Linked DNA regions of Homo sapiens: region 2 is linked to region 1. The links come from fine-mapping of genetic effects on gene expression. A gene starts in region 1. The other region holds a variant in brackets. All regions are shown on one strand. Distances are from middle to middle. Region 1 holds the start of MED25 (mediator complex subunit 25). Region 2 overlaps PTOV1 (PTOV1 extended AT-hook containing adaptor protein).

Region 1 (2,893 bases):
GTTTCAAAAAAAAAAAAAAAAATTCTGACCCAAGCCACAGAGGGATCTATCCTGGCTCTGACCCATCCCCCTGCACTGAGGCTACAATGTACCCATCTGGAAAAGGAGGACAGGGGTAGACGGAAAAAGAGAGGACAGAAAGGGGACAATCACACAGGGAGTACAAGGTGGCTGCTGGAGCTCAGCCAGGCCTCCCTGAATGGGAAGGTTTTTCCTACTTCTAAACTGATGGCAACATTGCTGAGCACACAGAAGCCACCACAAAAGTGACTTCTGACAAAAACACAATCACCCTCAAAGTCCTTTCAATCCCTTAATGTATGAGATGTTTCCTGCAGCTCAAACCCAAGCCATCGCTCATTCACGGCCCCTCGCAGGGACCCCAACCACCCCAAGCCATTACTTATTCACAGCCCCTCACGGGGACACCAACCACCCCAAGCCATCACTTATTCACAGCCTCTCACGGGGACACCAACCACCCCAAGCCATCACTCATTCACGGCCCCTCACAGGGACCAGCAACCCACCCCAAGTGGGGGAAAGCTCACTTAATGCCATCGAGCCAGGTGACAAACTCATAGGCGCTGCTGGTGGGAGCGTGACATTGTACGTAGGACTCGGGAGCGCAGTCCACTGTGTTGAACACCACGAGGCTGTACTGGGTCCCCCCATACTGGGAGGGGAGGACAGAAAACTTTTAATCTGGGACCTCAATTCCCTTTTCCCTTAGAGAAGGAATCAGGGCTCCCAGCTTCCCGTTCCTCCAGAACCAGGAACTCCTCAGCTTCCTCCTTCCTCAGACCCAGCAATCTCGGCCCCAGCCCCTTCTCCCTCAGACCCAGGAATCCAGGCCCCCGGCCCCTCCTCCCTCAGACCCAGGAGCCCAGGCCCCAGCACCTCCTCCCTCAGACCCAGGAATCCAGGCCTCAGCTCCTCCTTTCTCAGACCCAGCAGTCCAGACGCCCAGCCCTTCCTCCCTCAGACCCAGGGATCTGGGCCCCTAGCTCCCTCCTCCCTCGGACCCAGGAATCCGGGCCCCAGCGCCTCCACCCTCAGACCCAGGAGTCCAGGCCCCCAGGCCCTCCTCCCTCAGAACAAGGAGTCCAGACCCCCAGCCCCTCCTCCCTCAAACTCAGGAGTCCAGGCCCAGCCCTTTCTCCCTCCCTCAGACCCAGGAGTCCAGGCCCCCGGCCCCTCCTCCCTCAGGCCCAGGAGTCCCTAGACTCACGTCTCCCCCGAAGTCCGTCTCAGCAGGAGGACCACCATTAAAATACCTGTGAGGGTAGGAAGTGAAAGGTCGGAGTCAGGCAAGAAACTGTGCGAAACTGAAGTGGGAGGGCGGGGTTAGAGTCGCGGAAACAGCACTCACTCGATGGCCGGGAGCAGGTAGTGCTTGCGGAGCCCCTCGAAGTAGGGTCCCAGGTTGGCCGTACCCTCAATCACAAACACCACGTCGGCCACCACGCTCCCGGCGCGGGCCGGGCCCTCGGACCCGGGGACCATACCCCGTGCGGTACCCGCCACCACCACTGCAGCCGCAGCCGACGCCGCGGAATGAGCAGAAATGCGCCTGCGCCGCGCGCGCGCTCGCGTCGGGCGGTTTAGGGCTGCTGGGAATGCTGCCATGTTTGTGCGGGGCACGCGCTGAGGCTTCGTTCTAGCTCCATCCTCCTTCGCCCCCACCGCGTGGAAGACTCAGAAAGGGCATAGTTAGCCCTTCTAGGGGCCTGATGGGTTAGACGGAATTATTGTCAAAAGCTAAATAAATTGAAAGCGGCTCAGTCAGCCGCCATCTTTGAGCGGGGCGTCCAGGTCCGCCTCTTGTCTCAAAGGGAGGGGCAGGAGACCTGGTTGCTATGCAACGCGTACGCTGCCCTTGTTTTCGTTTTTGTGTTTTGTTTTTTGTTTGTTTGTTTTTTCGAAACGGGAGTCTCGCCCTGTCGCCCAGGCTGGAGTGCAGTGGCGCGATCTCGGCTCACTACAACCTCCGCTTCCCGGGTTCAAGCGATTCTCCTGCCTCAGCCTCCCGAGTAGCTGGGATTACAGGTGCCCGCAACCACGCCCCGCTAATTTTTGTATTTTTAGTAGAGAAAGAGTTTCACCCTGTGGGCCAGGCTGTTCTCGAACTCCTGACCTCAAGTGATTCGCCCGCCTTGGCTTCCCAAAGTGCTGAGATTACAGGCGTGAGCCACCGCGCCGGGCCCGCTGCCCTTGTTTTGTAACCGTTAGATTAAGTTTCTGGTTCTGTTCTTTCGGGCGTGGGGACTAGGGGAGGGACGCGAGAAGGATCCAATCACATCGGCGGAAACGAGGTTACTAGGCGACGCTTTAAGGTCGTCCTCAACTTGGAAGGGAGGGCAGTTGTTTTCCCCCCCGAAAAGAAGCCGAACACCAAACCAAGTGCGGGTTGCTAAGCAACACCTGAGCGTTGTTTTCTGGGAGAGGAGCCAGAAACTGGCTTAGAACGTAAATACATTCCAGGTGGATTAAAAATGTAAGTGCAACAAATGAAACCCGAAAACTATCTGAAGGGAAAAAATCTTAATGACTGCCATGGAGTTTCTTAGCACTACAGCAAAGTTAGAAAACGTAGTCTTCATTAATTTTTCCCAAAAGACTGTATAAACCAAGTTGAAAAATATACGGCCAACTGGGAAAATCTTTCTAGCGTGTTTGTTGACAGAAATGTACTACGCAAATAAATCTTACTGATGAATAACAATATAGAAAAATAGAAACACTTCATTACTATTATCTTTTAATTTTAATTTTTATTTTTTGAGGCAGGGTCTCTTTCTGTTGTGCAGGTTGAAGTGCAGTGGCCCAATCTTGGCTCACGGCAGCCTCTACTCGCACTGGAGCCACTCTTCAGCCTGTGGAGCAGCTGGGA
Region 2 (2,893 bases), 39 kb before region 1:
AACCCTGGAGTGCTGTGGAAGCCGCTCTCAGATCCCTTGGCAGCCCCCCAGGTGCAGGTCGTGGCTGCCCCTGCCCCGCTCAGTCCCTGCACAGCCACCAGCTGGCTGCCTGGGACCCCTTGAAGCCAAGCCTGAGGAGCTACCCACCACACCTGCTTCAGCACCCTCAGCTCCGCTCCCTCACAGCCAGCTCAGGCCACCTGGGGAGGCGCTCTTGCCCCCAGCCCCGCCCTCTGGAAGAGCTACTGCGTGCAGGCTCCAGCACCCGGCCCCAGCCCCTCACCAGCAGCTGCTGCGGGATGAGCTGCATGTACAGCTTCCTTGGCCACTGCTCGGTCCTCCTGTGGGGCACAAAGGGACGAGGGTCAGGAAGCCCCAGCTCCCCTGGATGCTGCCTCCACCCCCCAGCCCAGCACTCACAGGATCTCCCCCTGGTTCACGTAGACGTGGGATGGCAGCCACCTCTTGGACCGACTGTTGGGCTCAGGCCTGGGCTTTTGGGGGAGAGGCAAAGAGGAGCCCTCAGGGCTGGAGACCCCCAATGCCAGTGTCCCCTCCCAGCCACAGTCCGTGAGGATCTGGGGGTCCCAAGTCCCTGGGCTGCCGAGTGCTCACCTCCTGCCACTCCATGACACCACTCCATGCCAGAAACTTGTTGTTGACGATCTGGACTGGGCCTGAGTTGACACCACCAGGTCCCACTGCCTGTTGGAAGGGAACGGGGTGGGAAGAGGGGCCCAGGCTCCTGGGAAACCTGTCTGTCTGTCCTGGGGCCTGCCATCCCTCCCTCCGAGCCTTGGCCTGTTAGCCCCAGCTGGGTCCATTCTCTAGTCCCAGGGGAACAGGCCCTGCCCCTCATCTGCTCACAGCCCCCCATGGCTCCCCAGTGGCCTGAGACAGGTCCCGGCCCTCACCTGGTGCACAGGACCTGCAGAGTCTGCCTCAACTGGCAAGGCATGACCAGGACACGTGGTTACCAGGCAGGGCCTTCCAGCCGCAGGACGATCCCAACCCCTGCCCAGCTCCCCGCTCCGCTGGCTTCCCTGCCGCCGCGCCAAGACCCACCCTCCAGCCCTGCAGAGCCGCCCAGTGGCCGCTTTTCCATGGAGCCCTGGTGGGAACCCGCCCGGCATCCTCCGGGCTCCCCTGCAGCTCCTTGCTCCAGCCATCGCATCACACTCCGCCCACACCAAGTCTGGCTGCCCAACCAGGGCAGTGGGGTCTAATCCCCCTCTGTCCCCAGAGGGGCTGTGCTTGGCTGGCACACCTGCTTGCGGGTGGTGATGACCTGCCGGATGGCACTGACGAAGCCGCTCTGGTCGTAGGGGATGAGGCCCATGAAGATCTTCTTCTTGGACGAGTACAGGAGCATGAGCACGCGCACCTCACAGGGGGAGATGTGGGGGAACAGCATGCAGCCCGCCTGCGGGGGCCGCGGGTCAGGACCCTGTGGTCACTGCCCGGGGCCACTGTGCCCCCACCACCCTGGACCGCCCCACCTGTAGGGGATGAAGGGAGATCATCGGTGGACAGAGGCCCCCACAGTCAAGGCCATGGCCATAGGTGAGGGGCCTCTGAGAGCCCGTGCAGCGCCCATCGGCATCCCCC[G/T]ACCCTGCCATGGCTGAGGTCAGAGTGGCACCCGGCACCCAGGCTGCGGTGAGAATGCCAAGAAGGCACTACCTCCCACCCACATCACCCCCTGCCGCCAGCCCTCCTGACTGCCTGATGGGGTGACTTGGCCTGGGGGTTAAGAGCACAGGCAGCGCCCCACCGTTCTGCTGCCTCCTAGCTGTGTGACCTAACACCAGCCACCTCCTGCTTCTGGGCCTCCATCATCTGTAAAACCGGGTAATAGTGCACACAGTTGGTGCCACATAAAGGCTCAACAGATAAAGTGCTGGTGCCTCTTGAGGATGGCGCATGGGAGAACTAAGCCTGACAGATGTGCCTGGCTGTGGTGTCTAGATGAAGTGGTGTGACCGTCCCAAAACCCCATGTCCCCTCCCCACACCGGGCCACCCCCACAGTGCTGTCCCCTCCACGCTGCCGGCCTAACTTCTCAACCTTGGTGTCCAGCCCAGGGATCACCCGCTCAGGGCCCTGTCCCTGGCCTCCCTGGAGCCATGCACAGTCAGCCTCCCAGGGCCATGCCTGGGGGGTGAGTATGGATGTCCACTTTCCCTACAGACTGGGTACTCGGGGCCCAGATATGGCAGGCCCTCAACAAACGGTGCTGGGTGAAGGGGGAACGGGTCACTTAAGAGACCTCATGCCAGGCACAAGCCCTGGTCTGCCCCTGGTCTCCTGAGGGAGAAGGGAGGCCCTAGCGGAACCCAGGGCGCTCAACGGCAGCTGGGACGGGTAGAGGCAGACTGTCCCAACAGGGAACAGGGACTGGGAATGTCCCAGAGCCAGGTCCTCTGGGCAGACAACTCGCTCCCACCCCACCCCTGCCTCCTCTCCAGCACCTGCCATCTTTCACAGCCCAAGCCCCCTTTCTGACCTGCCCTGCGCCAGAATCTCAGTCACCTGAACAGCCTCACCAGCTGGGTTCACCCAGCACTCACTAGGTACTAAAGTCACCATCTCAAGCGCTTTACACAAATTCCCTCCCTCCAGCCTCCCGGTGGCCCTAGGAAGCACGGCTCCCCTGTCCTCCCTACCTCAGAAAATGTCATCTCTACCCCTCAACCAGCCCAACCCTGGAGTGCTGCGGAAGCCGCTCTCAGATCCCTTGGCAGCCCCCCGGGTCCAGGTCATGGCCGCGCCTGCCCCACTCAGTCCCTGCACAGCCACTGGCTGGATACCTGGGTCCCCTTGGAGCCAGGCCTGAGGACCTACTCACCGCGCCTGCTTCAGCACCCTCAGCTCTGCTCCCTCACGGCCAGCTCAG

What was found.
Region 2: its variant is fine-mapped to the expression of MED25 in transverse colon (GTEx, PIP 0.93).

Annotation. Positions count from the first base shown.
Region 1 is chr19:49,816,955-49,819,847 of GRCh38, reverse strand. MED25 (mediator complex subunit 25) reads right to left here and starts at 1,559. Exons shown (of 18, transcript NM_030973.4): 1 at 1,373-1,559; 2 at 1,232-1,277; 3 at 552-676. The coding sequence starts at 1,506. RefSeq lists silencers at 1,351-1,510, 1,437-1,603 and an enhancer at 1,641-2,000.
Region 2 is chr19:49,855,505-49,858,397 of GRCh38, reverse strand. It overlaps PTOV1 (PTOV1 extended AT-hook containing adaptor protein), which reads right to left. Exons shown (of 12, transcript NM_001394010.1): 6 at 1,268-1,423; 7 at 616-705; 8 at 421-494; 9 at 284-341. It overlaps PTOV1-AS2 (PTOV1 antisense RNA 2), which reads left to right. Exons shown (of 5, transcript NR_110730.1): 4 at 1-51; 5 at 1,326-1,933. Among named protein-coding and RNA genes, the nearest start is that of PTOV1-AS2, 2.3 kb to the left of the region's middle. RefSeq lists enhancers at 2,076-2,125, 2,156-2,215. The variant G/T (reference allele first, on the strand shown) is at 1,609.